3 linked regions of the Homo sapiens genome follow. The protein of the gene in region 1 interacts with the protein of each later gene in a biochemical or structural test. Each region holds a gene or a part of one and is shown in the gene's direction. Other genes may lie near its edges.

Evidence for each region. Proteins that work in one complex are often made in the same cells at the same time.
Region 2: of the proteins of RIGI (region 1) and PRKCB, one has a biochemical effect on the other in vitro, tested with the Homo sapiens proteins (one study listed by BioGRID).
Region 3: the proteins of RIGI (region 1) and IRGM form a complex in vitro, tested with the Homo sapiens proteins (one study listed by BioGRID).

Annotation. Positions count from the first base shown.
Region 1 is NC_000009.12:32,454,782-32,460,208, reverse strand, and holds the end of RIGI (antiviral innate immune response receptor RIG-I), read left to right. Parts: exon of another isoform or gene 1-694; coding exon 695-838; exon of another isoform or gene 839-1,167; intron 1,168-2,790; coding exon 2,791-3,087; 3' UTR 3,088-4,907; downstream 4,908-5,427.
Region 2 is NC_000016.10:24,090,965-24,097,996, forward strand, and holds part of PRKCB (protein kinase C beta type), read left to right. Parts: intron 1-1,826; coding exon 1,827-1,983; intron 1,984-3,198; coding exon 3,199-3,333; intron 3,334-7,032. UniProt on the Homo sapiens protein: Calcium-activated, phospholipid- and diacylglycerol (DAG)-dependent serine/threonine-protein kinase involved in various cellular processes such as regulation of the B-cell receptor (BCR) signalosome, oxidative stress-induced apoptosis, androgen receptor-dependent transcription regulation, insulin signaling and endothelial cells proliferation.
Region 3 is NC_000005.10:150,842,078-150,849,216, forward strand, and holds IRGM (immunity-related GTPase family M protein), read left to right. Parts: upstream 1-4,443; 5' UTR 4,444-5,143; intron 5,144-5,631; 5' UTR 5,632-6,046; coding exon 6,047-6,592; 3' UTR 6,593-6,625; downstream 6,626-7,139. UniProt on the Homo sapiens protein: Immunity-related GTPase that plays important roles in innate immunity and inflammatory response. Acts as a dynamin-like protein that binds to intracellular membranes and promotes remodeling and trafficking of those membranes.

The DNA of each region.
Region 1 (5,427 bases):
CTGGGGAGGCCTCAGAATCACGGAGGGAGGCAGAAGGCACTTCTTACATGGCAGCGGCAAGAGAAAAATGAGGAAGAAGCAAAAGTGGAAACGCTGATAAACCCATCAGGTCTTGTGAGACACAATCACTATCATAAGAATAGCACAGGAAAGACTGGCCCCCCATGATTCAATTACCTCCCCCTGGGTCCCTCCCATAACACGTGGGAATTCTGTTAAGATACAATTCAAGTTGAGATTTGGGTGAGGACACAGCCAAACCATATCAGGGGCTCTTCTGCCTGTTGTATCACTCACTGAGTTTGTGCCTGCAAATGGATATAATTATGCCTGAAACAGCGCATATTGTATATCTGGTACAGGTTTTGTTTTTTTTCCCAAGTTTTGCCAAACACTAAAGTAGAAAGCATAGTTCATATGACTATTCTATGGACATCTTTAGTGCTTTTATGAGCATTTTTGATGAAGAAATTGAAAGACTAATTGGAGGCCACAATTAAGCATTGACTAATACTAAGTTAGGAGAACCAATAAAATCTGTGATTTTACAAAGTCAGGTACCATATGTTCATGGAAGTTGTATATGAATGATTATACATGTGCGTGCATGTATATGTATTGTACGTATCTGTGCCTGTTTCTTGCTATATATGTTGTACTCAAATTACATTTGCGGTCTTTCTTTTTGCATTAGATTCTGCATATACAGACTCATGAAAAATTCATCAGAGATAGTCAAGAAAAACCAAAACCTGTACCTGATAAGGAAAATAAAAAACTGCTCTGCAGAAAGTGCAAAGCCTTGGCATGTTACACAGCTGACGTAAGAGTGATAGAGGTAAGCTGCCTTTTTACAAAGTGCCTGGTCATGTTTTAGCACTAGCTACAGCTTACTGTTGGTGAAATATTTATAATAAAACTACTATTATTTCCATTGTTACTGTGGCCATGATCTGTGTATTTAAAAAAAGCTAAGAAGTGAAAAAAAAATACTAAATGTTCAATAATAAAGAAATAGTTTTTGGCCAGGCATAGTGGCTCATGCCTGTAATCAAAACACTTTGGGAGGCCAAGGTGGGCGATCACGAGGTCAGGAGTTCGAGACCAGCCCGGCCAACATGGTGAAACCCCGTCTCTACTAAAAATAAAAAAGTTAGCTGGGCGTAGTGGCAGGTGGCTGTAATCTTAGTTACTCGGGAGGCTGAGGCAGGAGAATCGCTTGAACCGGGAGGCAGAGGTTGCGGTGAGCTGATATCGCGCCACTGCGCTCCAGCCTGGGTGACAGAGCAAGACTCTGTCTCAAAAAAAAAAAAAAAAAAGTCATGCTAAATGCAATGACGTGTCCTGGATTAGCTCCTGGAACAGATAAAGGATACAACTAGAGAAAGAGTGGTAAAATCTGTAGTTTAGATAATAGTAATGTACTGATGTTAATTATCTTGGTTTTGACAAATGTGCTGTGGTATATGAGATGTTAACATTTGGGGAAACTGGGTAAAGGGTATGCAGAAATTTTCTGGGATATCTTTGCAATTTTTCTTTAAATCTAAAATTGTTCCAAAGTAAAGTTTATTTTAAAAAATTATGAAGTTTATGTAGTATAATGAAAAACTGCTTACAAACTAATGGTAATAAGGAAAAAAGTAACCAGAACACAGAATTGTAAAGATGCTACTTTGTAGCTGTGTGAAACAACAGCAGCAAATACATTCATTGTCATTGTCAAGAGAAAAAGTCAAAAAACCTACCTTGCTACAGAAAAACAAAGGCTAGGGGAACTATACCAAAATGTATTAATATTTTGGTGGTGAGATTCCATGACTTTTTTTCTCTTTTCCTACTACCTTATGTTTTCCAAACATTCCTTTTGGGCTATGGATCACTTTTATAATGAAAACAAAATATCTCCTTATTTGTAAAATGTGACATCTGCAGATTAGCCTTCTATTGCAGCCTTATATTTCTTTCTTAAAACTTTCAGAGAAAGGGTTAGAAAAATCTCCAAAGAGAAATATGGGGTATAACTCTTGCATGGGGGGCACAGTGGAGGGGCTGGGCTGGCTCAGATGAGGAGTTATTACTTCAGGATGTTCCGTTCGTCTTCAGAAAGCAGAAATCTCTCATCAGCTCAGCTGTTTGGGCAAAAAGCCTATTAGGAGTCATATTGCTAAGTTCCCTTACCTTTCTAAGTCTGCTTCTTTAGCTGTAAAAGGTCCTTTCAGCTCCAATTTGGGTGATTGTTCTACTAAAAATGGCCCTTTTAGACCCTATGTTTTCCTGAGGGACTAGTATGTTGGATCTGCATTTGTTTCTGAGCTGTTTACTCTAAAGTTGACTCTAGGTGGGGCCTGTGGACACATTAGTCCCTGACCTTCTTCAATTGCATCTTGACCTTGGTCGTTTTCCCTGTATCCTTTGGATTGTGCCTGCCAGGGCCACTGGTGAACTTCAGCTTCACAAATTTTCAGCAAACATCGCTTCTGTTTTTGAATAATGAGTATCTACCTTCAGAAGCTGGGTTACCTGGAACCTTCTTAATCTTCTTCTTTATGAGGTGCCCAGTGTCCTCACTTGCAACCCCACCCTGCCTGTAGAGGGGAGTCAGGTGCATGGATCCTCTGGACTTTGGGTGAATCTATTTTTTTTTTTCCTCCAATTGTAAAATAAGTGAGACCCACCTGTTCTTTGCCTCAGATTATTGTGGGGTTTTCTTTTTTTTTTTTTTAAATCACAATTATGTACTGGTTCTAACGTTCTCTTTTGTGTGTTATTCCATCCCTTCATCTGTAGGAATGCCATTACACTGTGCTTGGAGATGCTTTTAAGGAATGCTTTGTGAGTAGACCACATCCCAAGCCAAAGCAGTTTTCAAGTTTTGAAAAAAGAGCAAAGATATTCTGTGCCCGACAGAACTGCAGCCATGACTGGGGAATCCATGTGAAGTACAAGACATTTGAGATTCCAGTTATAAAAATTGAAAGTTTTGTGGTGGAGGATATTGCAACTGGAGTTCAGACACTGTACTCGAAGTGGAAGGACTTTCATTTTGAGAAGATACCATTTGATCCAGCAGAAATGTCCAAATGATATCAGGTCCTCAATCTTCAGCTACAGGGAATGAGTAACTTTGAGTGGAGAAGAAACAAACATAGTGGGTATAATCATGGATCGCTTGTACCCCTGTGAAAATATATTTTTTAAAAATATCTTTAGCAGTTTGTACTATATTATATATGCAAAGCACAAATGAGTGAATCACAGCACTGAGTATTTTGTAGGCCAACAGAGCTCATAGTACTTGGGAAAAATTAAAAAGCCTCATTTCTAGCCTTCTTTTTAGAGTCAACTGCCAACAAACACACAGTAATCACTCTGTACACACTGGGATAGATGAATGAATGGAATGTTGGGAATTTTTATCTCCCTTTGTCTCCTTAACCTACTGTAAACTGGCTTTTGCCCTTAACAATCTACTGAAATTGTTCTTTTGAAGGTTACCAGTGACTCTGGTTGCCAAATCCACTGGGCACTTCTTAACCTTCTATTTGACCTCTGCGCATTTGGCCCTGTTGAGCACTCTTCTTGAAGCTCTCCCTGGGCTTCTCTCTCTTCTAGTTCTATTCTAGTCTTTTTTTATTGAGTCCTCCTCTTTGCTGATCCCTTCCAAGGGTTCAATATATATACATGTATATACTGTACATATGTATATGTAACTAATATACATACATACAGGTATGTATATGTAATGGTTATATGTACTCATGTTCCTGGTGTAGCAACGTGTGGTATGGCTACACAGAGAACATGAGAACATAAAGCCATTTTTATGCTTACTACTAAAAGCTGTCCACTGTAGAGTTGCTGTATGTAGCAATGTGTATCCACTCTACAGTGGTCAGCTTTTAGTAGAGAGCATAAAAATGATAAAATACTTCTTGAAAACTTAGTTTACTATACATCTTGCCCTATTAATATGTTCTCTTAACGTGTGCCATTGTTCTCTTTGACCATTTTCCTATAATGATGTTGATGTTCAACACCTGGACTGAATGTCTGTTCTCAGATCCCTTGGATGTTACAGATGAGGCAGTCTGACTGTCCTTTCTACTTGAAAGATTAGAATATGTATCCAAATGGCATTCACGTGTCACTTAGCAAGGTTTGCTGATGCTTCAAAGAGCTTAGTTTGCGGTTTCCTGGACGTGGAAACAAGTATCTGAGTTCCCTGGAGATCAACGGGATGAGGTGTTACAGCTGCCTCCCTCTTCATGCAATCTGGTGAGCAGTGGTGCAGGCGGGGAGCCAGAGAAACTTGCCAGTTATATAACTTCTCTTTGGCTTTTCTTCATCTGTAAAACAAGGATAATACTGAACTGTAAGGGTTAGTGGAGAGTTTTTAATTAAAAGAATGTGTGAAAAGTACATGACACAGTAGTTGCTTGATAATAGTTACTAGTAGTAGTATTCTTACTAAGACCCAATACAAATGGATTATTTAAACCAAGTTTATGAGTTGGTTTTTTTTCATTTTCTATTTGTATTTTATTAAGAGTGTCTTTTCTTATGTGATTTTTTTTAATTGCTATTTGATATGGTTTGGCTATATGTCCCCACCCAAATCTCATCTTGAATTATAATCCCCATGTGTCAAGGGAGGGACCTGACGGGAGGTGATTGGATCACGGGGGCAGTTGTCCCCATGCTGTTCTTGGGATAGTGAGTTAGTTCTCATGAGATCTGATGGTTTTATAAGTGTTTGACAATTCCTCCTTTACACACACTCTCTCTCTCATCTGCTGCCATGTAAGACTTGCCTGCTTCCCCTTCTGCCATGATTGTAAGTTTCCTGAGGCCTCCTCAGCCATGTGGAACTGTGAATCTATTAAGCCTCTTTTCTTTATAAATGACCCAGTCTCAGGCAGTTCTTTATAGCAGTGTGAAAACAGACTAATACACTATTGTTTAAGAACTCCAATAGGATGTGTAAAACATCTACTAGAAATAGATTTAATAAGATAAAAGTTATTATTATTATTTTTTTTTCTGAGATGGAGTCTCACTCTGTTGCCCAGGTTGGAGTGTAGTGGTGTGATCTCGGCTCACTGCAACCTCTGCCTTCTAGGTTCAAGTGATTCTCCTGCCTCAGCCTCCCACATAGCTGGGTACAGGCACCCACCACCACACCCGGCTAAATTTTTTTATTTTTAGTAGAGTCGGGGTTTCACCATGTTGGCCAGGCTGGTCTTGAACTCCTGACCTCAAGTGATCCACTTGCCTCGGCCTCCCACAGTGTTGGGATTACAGGCGTGAGTCACCATGCCTGGCCAAGAAAAGTTCTTTTAAGTATGTAAATGATTCAATTTGGATGAAGGTGAATAGCCCTATTCAGCCAACTGAGGCAGGCAGACTGAAGTGAAAATAAATAAG
Region 2 (7,032 bases), on another chromosome or scaffold:
ATTTTTCCAGCCTTTTCCCTATGGGCTGTCTGGGTGCAGGTTATGGGTGATACATGGATAATAGGTGCATCTTGGTTTAGAGGGTAACTCTTTATTTCTTACTGCACTTATGGAACACGAGAAAAAAAAGTATTAAATAATGGCTATGGTAATGGATATCTTTGTCTTATTCCTTACTTTAATGGAATTGCATTTATCATGAACCATGGTGCTGTTATTTCAGATAGCCTTTATCCTGTTAAAATTCTCTGCTGTTTCTAGATAACTACAATGATCTTATGGTTTTCTTCTTTGATCTATAAATATGATGAATATATTGAAAATAGATTTCCTAAGATTGAACCATCTTTGCATTCCTGATAGGAGTCATTATGTATTCACCTTTTAGCAGATAGTTAGAGTCGATTTGGATTGAATGTATTACTGTGGATTGTTCTACTGTAAGTGAGATGATTGACATTGTATCCTTAAGAGCTGTGCAATTCTCATTTTCTAGTCTGCTTCCATTGACTACCTGCATTACTGGTTTCTGAATTGATTCCTAATTAACTACTTCCTGTTTCTCCAAGCTGATGATTTAGTCTCCCTCATCCTTTCTATAGCCAGTTGCATCTTCACTGCTGATTCCCTGCCTCCTTTTCTCCTGTAAGTTCATCTTTTTTTTTTGACGGAGTCTCACTCTGTCGCCCAGGCTGGAGTGCAGTGGCATGATCTTGGCTCACTGCAAGCTCTGCCTCCTGGGTTCATGCCATTCTCCTGCCTGGGCCTCCCAAGTAGGTGGGACCACAGGCACCTGCCACCATGCCTGGCTAATTTTTTTGTATTGTTAGTAGAGACAGGGTTTCACCATGTTAGCCTTATAGCCTCTTTACCTGGGTGTTCTGGAGTCAGGGTGGAGCTGAGCTCTAATGCTGCTGACATTGTTCCAGCCTTCTCTCTATGGGCTGTCTGGGTGCTGGTTATGGGTGATACATGGATAATAGGTGTACCTTGGTTTAGAGGGTAATTCTTCCTTTCTTTAGCTTTTTCTTTTTGAATGGAGGTAAAATTAACGTAACATAAAATTAACCATTAACTGTTTTTAAACGTACAATTCAGTGACATTTATAGAATATTCACAGTGTTGGACAACCATCATCTCTATCTAGTTCTCAGAAATTTTCATCACCTCTAAAAGAAACCCTGTACTCATTAAGCAGTCACTCCCCATTTCCCTTTCCCTCCAGCCTCTGGCAACTATTAATAGTAGTCTACTTTCTGTCTCTATGGATTTACCTGTTTGGGATGTTTCATGTAAATGGAATCATACAATATGTGACCTTTTGTGTTGGGGTACACAAATGTTCATAGCAGCAGTATTCACAACAGCCAAAAAGTGGAAACAACCCAACTATGCATCAACTGCTGAATGGATAAACAAAATGTGGGATATCTATACAATGGAATATTATTCAGTCATGCAAAAAAATGAAGTGCTGATACATGCTATAATGTGGTGAACTTTGAAAACGTTATGCTAAATGAAAGAAGCCAGCCTTTCCTGTGGGCTTTGTGGAAAATAAGCTTAGAAAACTTACAGTTAATCTTGGTATGGGAAGAGCAGTGTAAAAGTCAGAAATCCATTTTTAACCAACACAGACCAGAGTTGACATCTTATCAGCCCATCTCATTTTGTGCACTGCTTCAGCTATGGATGTTAATAAAATTAAATTTCTCACTAAACAAGTGTGATGCCAAAGAACCTTCCACAAGTTCTGCAGCTGTCACTGCTTGGTGCTTAAACATGTTGGACAGTATTAATGCAAAAACTGCTTTTTCTTTTTCAGTAAGAGATGCTAAAAACCTTGTACCTATGGACCCCAATGGCCTGTCAGATCCCTACGTAAAACTGAAACTGATTCCCGATCCCAAAAGTGAGAGCAAACAGAAGACCAAAACCATCAAATGCTCCCTCAACCCTGAGTGGAATGAGACATTTAGATTGTAAGTGGAAATGACTGCAGTGAGCATGGGTGGTGGAGGTTGGGTTATGTGCCACCTGAAATCAGGGAGTTCCTCCTCCCTTAGCTCCTGTTTCCTTCCTTCCCTACCTCCCTCCTTTTCTGTCTTCTCCATCCCTCACTCCTATCTTTCCCTCCCTTCTTTTCCATCTGCAATTTTGTATTGTGAGCCAAGAAAAAAAATTAGAGCTATTTTTTTAATAGAGATGAGAATGCCTGTGGTGTGGGGGAGTGGGTAGGACAGGAAATGGTGTGATGTGTTGCTAAGTGAAGGCAAGTTGTGGGAGAAATGATGGGGCTCAGCAAATAGGGGAACATAACCTACAGGGTGTGGTGACAGCCTCTCTAGAGTTGGGTTTATGGATGATGCTTGGCCTGCAGCCTTCTGGGACATCTCCACCAGCCTCCCTTGAGGGTCTTCCCTGGCCAGGGCTCCAAGAATCTGGGAGTCTCTTTCTTGTACATCTAGGCATCAGGAGTTGGTTATAACAGCCAATTCACTGAGCATATATGATGTGTGACAAACACTGGGTTAAGCGATCCGACTTCATCGGCTCATTTTATTCCCAATGTAGCAATAGGGCTTATAGAGGTTAAAGAGTATGCCCAAAGTCCCATAGCAAATATGGGGTGGAGTGGGATTCAGCTTCTGGCAGTCTGACTTTAGCGGTCATACTTTTTTAGCCACCAGCTAGAAGCACAGTTCCTTGTCCTGTCTCCTCTTCCCTCTCTCAGGGCAAAGCTGGGCCCCTTCTCAGCCTCAGTCAAGGACATGTCTCAGAACAGACAATTTCCCCAGGATTTTTCTCCATGCATTTCCTCAGCCTCATTCTCAACCCACCTGTGTGCAGATATACACATGTACACACCCAATTATGCAATTGATATCTGTATTTCTTATAGGCAATAGGAATTCCTGAATATCCTGAACCCTATTAAGACATAAGATAACAAAAGTAGTTAGAACTGTTCTTGTCATAGCCAGTCTAAGACCTCTGCCTGTTTAAGCCACAGGCTGTCAAACAGAAAAAGCTCTCACTCCCTGGAGAGCTAGCCTGGGATGGAAACTGAATATGTTTCTTTCAGCAGCTTGTAATCTTTAAAACTTTCTACCTCCAGGTCTTGTCCTCTTGTACATTTATTCTGCTTGAGAAATTACTACAACCTCCACTGATGTCTTTTCTTTTTCTCTATGCAGTCAGCTGAAAGAATCGGACAAAGACAGAAGACTGTCAGTAGAGATTTGGGATTGGGATTTGACCAGCAGGAATGACTTCATGGGATCTTTGTCCTTTGGGATTTCTGAACTTCAGAAAGCCAGTGTTGATGGCTGGTAAGTAAGATTTTGCCTTGAAAGCTACCATACAGCTTGCTCCATCAAACGCGGGGTCAAGTATGTTTTCCTTTTTCTCCAAAAATTGAAATACTAAAACAGAGTCCCAAAGTGAAGTCTGGTTGATTGGATCTGCCTTGCAGATATGTTTTGTTTGGTCCTTGTACTAAAAACAAAAAAGAAAGAGGCCAGGCCTCGTGTCTGACACCTGTCATCCCAGCACTCTGGGAGGCCGAGGCAGGTAGATCACTTGAGCTCAGGAGTTTAAGACCAGTCTGGGCAACATGGTGAAACCCCATCTCTATCAAAAACATGAAAAATTAGCTGGGCATGGTGGTGTGTGCCTGTAGTTCCAGCTACTCAGGAGGCTGAGATGGGAGGATCACTTGAACCCTGGAGGCAGAGGTTGCAGTGAGCAAGGTGGTCAGAGATTGAGCCACTGCACTCCAGCCTGGGTGACAGAGTGATAAAAAAGAAAGAGAGAGAGAGAGAAGGAATGAAGGAAGGGAGGGAGGAAGGAAGGAAGGAAGGAAGGAAGGAAGGAAGGAAGGAAGGAAAGGAAGAAAAAGGGAAAGGGAAAGGAAGAAGAAAGAAAGAAGAAAGAAAGACGGAAAGCAGGAAGGAAGGAAGGGAGGAAGGGAAGGAGGGACAGAAGGAGGGAGGGAGGGAATTAGTTCTAGTATTTTAAAAATCTGGGGCTAGAAGGCAACAATTGAGAACAGTTGAATAGTTAATGCCCCCTTTAGACAGGACATGGATTTTCTATTTGTCACCGTCCTCACCACTCCCTATTTTATTACATCTGGGCCAATTTACTAAACTACATGATGAGACTGTAACTGCCCAGTGGCTTCTTTGTGCCTGCTGCCCAGACAGAGCCGATTTATCAAGATGGGAGAATTGCAATAGGGAAAGAGTTTTACACACATAGAGCCAGCTAAATGGGAGAACAGAGTTTTTTTATGACTCAAATCAGCCTCCCTGAAAATTTGGAAGCTAGGGCTTTTCAAAGATAGTTTGGCAAGGAGTAGGGTGGCTAGGGAATGGGTGCTGCTGACTGGTTGGGGATGCAGTAATAGGGGTGTGAAAAATGGTCCTCGTGCACTGAGTCCACTTCTGGGTGGGGCCACAGGACTAGTTGGCAGGTCCAGGTGGGGCAGTCTGGTTGTCAGGAAGGCAAAAGCCTGAAAAGACATCTCAAAAGGCCAATCTCAAGTTCTACAGTAGTGATGTTATCTGTAGGAGTAACTTAGGAAGTTGGAAGTGTTGTGAGCTCTGGGATAAAGGCTGATAATAATCCATGTCTACATCTTAGCAGAATTCAGGCTCCTTTCATTCTCCTAACTTGGCAATATTTCATTAGTTTTACAAAGGCAGTTTAGTTTTGGGAAAGGGCTGTCATAATTTAAAATATACAACAAATTTCTTTCAAAGTTAGGTTGGCGGTCTGGTCGGGGTGGAGCCATTGGTTACGAGAAATGCAAAAAAACCTGAAGAGACATCTCAAAAGGCCAGTCTACAATAGTGATCTTATCTGCGGGGGTCATTGGGAAAGTTGCAAATCTTGTGACCTCTGGAATAATGGCTGGTAATCCTTTATGTCTACACCTTAGCAGAATTCAGGCTCCTCTCATCCTCCTAACCTCATGGTCCCTCATTAGCTTTATGAAGGTAGTTTAGTTTTGGGCAAGGGCTATTATCATTTAAAATGTACACTAGGCCGGGCGCAGTGGCTCACCCCTGTATTCCCAGCACTTTGGGAGGCCGAGGTGGGTGGATCACGAGATCGGGAGATCGAGACCATCCTGGCCAACATGGTGAAACCCTGTCTGTACTAAAAATACAAAAATTAGTTGGGTGTGCTGGCATGTGAGGATCACTTGAACCAGGGAGGCGGAGGTTGCAGTGAGCCGAGATCATGCCACTGCACTCCAGCCTGGGTGACAGAGCAAGACTCCATCTCAAAATAAAATGAAATAAAATAAAATAAACACTAAATTTGTCACAAAGTTAACTTGGCCCGAGCCCAGGAAAGCGTAAGGGCAGTTTGGAGGTTAAAGGCAAGCTGGGGGTTGGTTAGATCAAATCTCTTTCACTGACGTCATCATTTTCTCCCTGTTACAATTTCTGCAAAGACAGTTCCATGACTGGCTCCATGGACACTAGAGTGGCTTGTACACTTCACCTGAAAGATATGAGCAACCCACTGTCAGATGGTGTCTGAGAAGCTACCGCTTCCTTGGGAGTCCTTAGCAAGTCTGGCCACAGATCATAGATGTACTGGGGTGTTGTTTTCATAGTCAGCTGCTGTGTCTCCTTTGTCCTGAAGATTTTATTTTGCTCCCTTCCTATGGCAAAAAAAAAAAAAAATATATATATATATATATATATATATATATATATATATATCCTCCAATGTTACCAACAGAGAGGCTGGGTAAGCCCCCTTGGCAACTGTTTCACAGTTAACTGAGTCAAGGAGTCAGAAGAAATAGCTTAACCTGGCACTATAACTTTGGGAGAAGTGGCAATTGGGCTGCTATTACTTCTTTAAGATAAATTGTCTCATATCTGAATTGTCTCATTCAGGACCTTTTCAGCTTCAAGTGAAAGAAAATAAAAATCAAACTGGTTTAGCGAGAAAGAGATGTGTCCTTTGGACCACACACACATCTTTCCTTTCCATTGTTCACCTTATGACTTCCTTGTCTTGGCTCCATGTTTCATCTTAGGCCTTTTTTTTTTTTTTTTTTTTTTGAGACGGAGTCTTGCTCTGTCACCCAGGCTGGAGTGCAGTGGTGTGATCTCGGCTCACTGCAACCTCTGCCTCCTGGGTTCAAGCAATTCTCCTGCCTCAGCCTCCCGAGTAGCTGGGACTACAGGTGCCCGCCACCACGCCCAGCTAATTTTTTGTAATTTTAGTAGAGATGGGGTTTCACCATGTTAGCCAGGATGATCTCGATCTCCTGACCTTGTGATCTGCCTGCCTTGGCCTCCCAAAGTGCTGGGATTGCAGGTGTGAGCCTCCGTGCCCAGCCTATCTTAGGCTTTTCTTGAAACATATATTGAGTGTCCACTAGGTGCTGGTCACTAGAAACACATGGAGGTATAAGACAGACATGACTTCATGGAGCTTAGCTTATGGCAGAGGGTGGGTTGGGGAGATAAACATTGAACAAGGAATTACGCAAATGACAAATCAATGACAACATGATGGAAGATGTGAAGAAGACAGGAGCTGAGAGTTTTGAACCCAAAAGTATCTGAGACAGATTTCAATCAGTTTAGAAAGTTTATTTTGCCAAGGTTAAGGATGTGCCAGTGACACAGACTCAGGAGATCCTGATGACATGGGCCCAAGGTGGATGGGGTACAACTTGCTTTTATACATTTTAGGGAGACGTAAGACATCAATCAATACATGTGAGATTTACATTGGCTCAATCTGGAAAGGCAGGACAACTAAAAGTGGGACGGGGAGGTGCTTCCGGGTCATAGGTAGATTTTACAATTTTCTGATTGGCAATTGGTTGAATGAGCTGTTATCAATAGAAAGGAATGTCTGGGTTACATAAGGAGTTGTGGAGACCAAAGTTTTATCATGAAGATGAAGCCTCCAGGTAGCAGGCTTCAGAGAGACTAGATGGTAATTGTTTCTTATCAGACTTAAGGTCTGTGTTGATGTTAATGCTGGTTGGC
Region 3 (7,139 bases), on another chromosome or scaffold:
ACTCTGCTGATTATTTCTTTTGCTGTGCAGAAGCTTTTTAGTTTAATTAGGTCCCATTTATTTATTTTTGTTTTTGTTGCATTTGCTTTGGGATCTTAGTCATGAATTCTTTGCCTATGTCAATGTCTAGAAGAATTTTTCGAATGTTATCTTCTAGAATTTTTATGGTTTCAAGTTAGATTTCAGTCTTTGATCTATCTTGAGTTTATTTTATTATTATTATTCTTTTTGAGACGGAGTCTCGCTCTGTCACCAGGCGGGAGTGCAGTGGCGCGATCTCGGCTCACTGCAACCTTTGCCTCCCAGATTCAAGCAATTCTCCTGCCTCGGCCTCCTGAGTAGCTAGGACTACAGGCACGCACCACCATGCCCAGCTAATTTTTTGTATTTTTAGTAGAGACAGGGTTTCACCATGTTGGCCAGGATGGTCTCAATCTCTTGGGCTCATGACCCGCCCGCCTCAGCCTCCCAAAGTGCTGCGATTACAGGCATGAGCCACCGCACCTGGCCGAGTTTATTTTTGTGTAAGATGAGAGCTGAGGATCCAGTTTCATTATTCTACATGAATTATCACATTGATTTTTCCCGCAGCCTTTTCTGATAATGATCAAACAGAGGAAAAGCCTGGGATTTGATCCACATTGTTTTCCGGGCACATGGAGTTCTCTGATGCACCAGCCTCCACATCTGTGCTAAGGCCAGGTCTTACTTTGCTATAAGTACCTTTGTTTGGGGATCAAGATAATTGGCATGGAATTAACTATATATAACCTCACATGGGAAATCTATTAATCTGTGTTCTTCATTCTGCATGTTTTACTCATGAAATTAATTCATTGGATTATGACCAGCATTAAAAAACAAACAGATGAAAAACATTCATAGAATGGAATAGGAGTTATAGGGTGTATTTAAGGCAAATTGTTCTGTAATACCTCACATTCACCTGTGTGCAGGTATTTGTGTGCATGTGTACTTGGTTCCTATATGCTCACTTAGTAAATTTAGGAATATGCTCCTTCTAGGATCTGGTTCTTTTTTTTTTTGTATGGCTGCCACTCTGTAATTGAACCTGGTTCCACGACTCCCTTTAGAAGGGCCTCCTCCTCCTCTTCCAAAAGGACTCCTCTGCCCCTGTCTGGAGGAAGGTATCTGGCAATATATCTGGGCAAGATATTCAAAGAGCTGAGCTTGGAGCAATTGTAACCCAGGCTGAATTCTGATGACCTCTTCTAAACTTCCAGGTCAGTGCTCCTGGAGGCTCACCCACACAAACACATAGGCACACTAACAACACCTGGAAGACACACCAACCTCATGCAGAGGAAACCATACCCTCACTGGCCTGGCAGTGACACAGGGGCCTGGGCAGGCATAGCACAGAAGAGTCCTGGTGTAACTGAGATAAAGTATCTCAATTGTACAAATAATTATTTTCGGCTCGGTTGTCTCTAGCGTGCAGCTGGTGAGCCTTCACCATGGGCCCAGGAGAAGCGGATCATATGAACAAGGCCTGGGGATGGGACAGTTGAGCTGGGGCTGCAGGGGCTAAGGCTGTTTCCCATGGGGCTCAGCACTGGTGGACAGGTAAGCAGACAGGTTTGAAGATGCTGGCTCAGTTCACAGACATGGTCACAGAAAAAGCCTGGAAAACTATAGGGTTTTCTGCTGACCTCCCACACTCACCATGGACAGTCAGTACCCTGCACTGGCCCGTGTCGTACCCAAGCAGAGTGTGCTTGAAAATTGGATGTATATTAGTAGACCCCGTGCTCAGCGGGTACAGTTTAGAAAGGGAAGTTAACTTATCTGTCAATTAGTAAGTTAACAACACACAAAGTGTACTATGTTTTATTAATCAAACAAAAATATGTTTAACACCTGCTGGGCACAAGGAGTACAATGGTAAAGAGTTTAATGGAAATGTTTAATGGTTAATGCCAAGACCTGTGTATGTATTAATATGATGCCAATCATTTAATACCTGATGAAGCAATAGTTTCTGGGACTACTTGGGTTAGAAAATGGGCCTGCCACAGGCCCAAGCCCATCCCCTACCCTGCATGTGCTCCTGCTCCACTCCCTTGTGCATCTATCCGGTATAATGTTGTGGGGAAGGGGAGTGCTCGATTCCTCACCTTAACCAGCCTGCCAGCTATCCATGCAGAGACATGTGGGCAAAACTCCTAAGGCCAGACCTCCCCACTCCATTCTCCTGCTAGGCTGCTGAGGGACTCCATTCGAACCTGGTAATTACCCTGCCTCCTTCCCTCCAGATTCCATAGGTTACCTCTTCCTCTTTGCAGACTAACTAAAAGCCACCATATCTAAGTAGCATTTGATGAGAAGAAACTAGTTATTTATGTAAACCAAAATAATTAATGTTACAACGGAGAAACTTTATATAGCAGCCACAGATGAAGCCTGGCATGAGGAAGTCAATGATCAGTTGCTGCTCTCGCCATATGGTGGGTTATAAAATCTTCCCAAGACAAGTGAGGCACCGAGAAATTGAAGACTCATATACATTCCAGAGAACAGGGCCTCTCTCATCCATCTCCTCCATTAGGGCCTTTCTTCATATTTCATAGATAGACAGCTGGAGCCAGTTCTCTGCTTCCTGGGCCCTCTAAAAGGGCCAAAGACTTGGACAAATCCATTGTCCTGGGCACTCAGGAGGCAAGATTCTGTGTGTGCATGAGTGTACGAACATGTGTCATGTGAGAGAGTGTGTGGGCACTGGGCACACGAAGCATGAGGGTAGGTGAGTGAACATGTGTCAGCCTACATGAGTGTATATATATGTGCACAGAGTGTGTGAGCATGTGTGCATCAAACATAAGTTTGTGTGAACGTGGCACCACGAGTGAATTTGTGTGTTTGTGTGTGGGGTAAGTGAACATGTTGCAGCCTGAGTGAGCAAGTGTAGTGTGTGCAACAGGGATGTATGTATTCATGTTTACACATGTCAGCTTAAGTATGTTAGGGTGTGTGAACGTGTGTCAGTGTGAGTATGTGTGGGCCTGTGCACAGAATGCAAGTAAGTGTATGTGTGCATGCCGAGGGTGAGTGAGAGTGTGTGTGTGGGGGGGTAAGTAAACATGGCTGGGCATGGGTGAGTGTGCACACCAGGTATGAGTGGCTGTGTGCAGTGTTGTGTGTGTTCACAATGAGTGTGTGAAACAGACCTGCCAGGCCATGCTAGTGAGAGGTGACAGCATGCTGGCAGCCCTCGCAGCCCTCGCTGGCTCTCGGAGCCTCCTCAGCCTTGGCGCCCACTCTAGTGGCACTTGAGGAGCCCTTCAGCCCGCCGCTGCACTGTGGGAGCCCCTTTCTGGGCTGGCCAAGGCCGGAGCTGGCTCCCTCAGCTTGTGGGGAGGTGTGGAGGGAGAGGCACGGGCAGCAACTGGGGCTGCGGGCGTCGCTTGCGGGCCAGCACGAGTTCCGGGTGGGCGTGGGCTCAGCGGGCCCGCGCTCAGAGCAGCCATCCGGCCCCGATGGCCCCTGGCAGTGAGGGGCTTAGCACCTGGGCCAGCAGCTGCTGTGCTGGATTTCTCCCCGGCCTTAGCTGCCTCCCCGCAGGGCAGGGCTTGGGACCTGCAGCCCGCCATGCCTGAGCCTCTCTCCCCTGCCCCACTCCGTGGGCTCCTGCACAGCCCGAGCCTCCCCTATGAGCGCCGCTCCCTGCTCCACGGCGCCCAGTCCCATCCACTGCCCAAGGGCTGAAGAGTGCAGGCGCATGGCCGGGGACTGCCAGGCAGCTTCACCTGCGGCCTGGTGCAGGATCCACTGGGTGAAGCCAGCTGGGCTCCTGAGTCTGGTGGGGACTTGGACAACATTTATGTCTAGCTAAGGGATTGTAAATACACCAATCAGCACTCTGTATCTAGCTCAAGGTTTGTAAACACACCAATCAGCACCCTGTGTCTAGCTCAGGGTTTGCGAACACACCAATCGACCCTCTGTATCTAGCTAATCTAGTGGGGACATGGAGAACTTTTGTGTCTAGCTCAGGAATTGTAAATGCACCAATCAGCACCCTGTGTCTAGCTCAGGGTTTGTGGATGCACCAATCAGCACTCTGAGCCTAGCTAATCTGGTGGGGACTTGGAGAATCTTTATGTCTAGCTAAGGGATTGTGAATGCACCAATTGGCACTCTATATCTAGCTCAAGGTTTGTAAACACACCAATCAGCACCCTGTGTCTAGCTCAAGGTTTGCAAATGCACCAATCTATACTCTGTATCTAGCTAATCTAGTGGGGAGGTGGAGAACTTTTGTGTCTAGCTCAGGGATTGTAAACACACCAATCAGCACCCTGTCAAAATGGACCAATCAGCTCTCTGTAAAACAGACCAATCGGCTCTCTGTAAAATGGACCAATCAGCAGGATGTGGGTGGGCCAGATAAGAGAATAAAAGCAGGCTGCCCGAACCAGCAGTGGTAACCTGCTCAGGTCCCCTTCCATGCTGTGGAAGCTTTGTTTTTTTGCACTTTGCAGTAAATCTTGCTGCTGCTCATTCTTTGGGTCCACACTGCCTTTATGAGCTGTAACACTCACCGTGAAGGTCTGCAGCATCACTCCTGAAACCTGTGAAACAACGAACCCCCCGGGGAGAAACGAACAACTCCAGACTCGCCGCCTGAAGAGCTGTAACTCTCACTTCGAAGGTCTGCAGCTTCGCTCCTGAGTCAGTGAAACCACGAACCCACCGGAAGGAAGAAACTCTGAACACATCCAAACATCAGAAGGAACAAACTCCGGACACGCAGCCTTTAAGAATTGTAACACTCACCGCGAGGGTCCGTGGCTTCATTCTTGAAGTCAGTGAGACGAAGAACCCACCAATTCCGGTAGGAGTAGGAAATCACATCACCTTCTTTTAATCAGTCTCAAATACCTGGCCCCTTGTGGAACCTGCAAGAGCCAGGTTTGGCGAATGCAATGATAAGCAATTGTCTAATCACTGCCTTGAAAAAGAGCAGAGCATTTGAGTATGCTGTCTCCTCCTCTCCCTCACTTCAGTTGGGCCCAACATGACAGTCTTAATGGAAGCTCGGGGGTCAAAGGCTGGTGGCTTACTTCACGTATATTGCAGCATTTCAGTACTGCTCTGCACGTGTGCTCCCCCGCCTGATGAGGTAAGTGTTAAACAGGGATGATCACAGCTTCAAGTAAGCAATGGGAATTGGATGTTTTATGTCCTCTGGCGCCATCTTCAGCAGAGAAATATATAGGTCACTTTTACTTGTCTGGTTTTGGTCTTGAAATATGTACTGAAACTTGTGAAGGAGCAGACCTATATTAGGATAGAGTAAAAGAGGGAAAGACAAAAACCTCTTGGGCTTTTCAGGAGACTTGGTTCATTCTCTGCTTTTCAAGCCATCTCATGGCCACATGCCTGCTTTGGAGGCTGACTCGGAGGCACAACCGGCCTCAGGGCGTTCCTCAGGGACCCTACCTTTCTTGCTCCCTGAAGAAATGTGCACATTGCTTGAATAAAAACAATCAAAGAACACTCAGTCAAGATCGTCTGCTGCAGTCTTCGTTGAGGGCTGGGGATGCTAAAAGTCAGATGATTCATGTGTACCCTGTCCATCCTAACTCACCTGCTCTTCTACTTCCGCAGCTTACTCCAGTGCCCACAGATACGACAGAGTGTCCCAAGTGCCCCTCACACTCTATTAGCTGCATCCTTAACCTCTTTTTGCCACACCATAAGCATTGGGTTTTGTTTGTTTTGAGATGGAGTCTTGCTCTGTTGCCAGGCTGGAGTGCAATGGCGTGATCTCAGCTCACTGCAATATCTGCGTCCAGGGTTCAAGCGATTCCCCTGCCTCAGCCTCCTGTATTAGCTGGGACTACAGGCGCACACCACCACGCGCAGCTAATTTTTTTGTATTTTAGTAGAGAAGGTTTCACGATGTTGGCCAGGATGGTCTCAATCTCCTGACCTCGTGATCTGCTCGCCTCGGCCTTCCAAAGTGCTGGGATTACAGGCATGAGCCACGGCGCCTGGCCAGCATTGGGGTATTTTATTGAAGATGGAAGCCATGAATGTTGAGAAAGCCTCAGCAGATGGGAACTTGCCAGAGGTGATCTCTAACATCAAGGAGACTCTGAAGATAGTGTCCAGGACACCAGTTAACATCACTATGGCAGGGGACTCTGGCAATGGGATGTCCACCTTCATCAGTGCCCTTCGAAACACAGGACATGAGGGTAAGGCCTCACCTCCTACTGAGCTGGTAAAAGCTACCCAAAGATGTGCCTCCTATTTCTCTTCCCACTTTTCAAATGTGGTGTTGTGGGACCTGCCTGGCACAGGGTCTGCCACCACAACCCTGGAGAACTACCTGATGGAAATGCAGTTCAACCGGTATGACTTCATCATGGTTGCATCTGCACAATTCAGCATGAATCATGTGATGCTTGCCAAAACCGCTGAGGACATGGGAAAGAAGTTCTACATTGTCTGGACCAAGCTAGACATGGACCTCAGCACAGGTGCCCTCCCAGAAGTGCAGCTACTGCAGATCAGAGAAAATGTCCTGGAAAATCTCCAGAAGGAGCGGGTATGTGAATACTAATTCCTGTCTTCATTAAACATTTTCCATCTCCTCCTATTGATTCCTTTTCTCCTTTATTTCACTGGACTCATTGAAACACACCTGGTGCAGAAGGGTATCTTACAATTTTCGGGGGCATGTAGAGAGTGTGGTTGTGTTGTTCTTTGAGATCTTTTGAGTGTTGGGGCCAAGATTCCCAGGCAAGGCTGCTTGCTTCGAAGGTCCTTTCCCTTCACGGAACTCTCCACCAGGTGCTAAAAATGATCAGTGTCTTAAAATGGATGCAAGATTATATCATCAGGGTCCTAGCACTCTCAAACTGAGTCATAATGAGGGTATTTTCAAAGGTGTGGACAGGGTGCAGGGAGACCACCAAGACAAAATGTTAACCCCACGGTATAACCTCAAGGCAAGTAATGGTCGGGAGGAGCCCTCTCCAGGTTCGAACAGGCAAGTAGAGAGGCAGGTTGCTTGAATCTCAAGATGGAGTTTATCAGTAATAATAAAGACTTCTGGGCTTAAAAACACACAACTGAGATCTACAACAAAACCTCTAAAACAGAAAAAA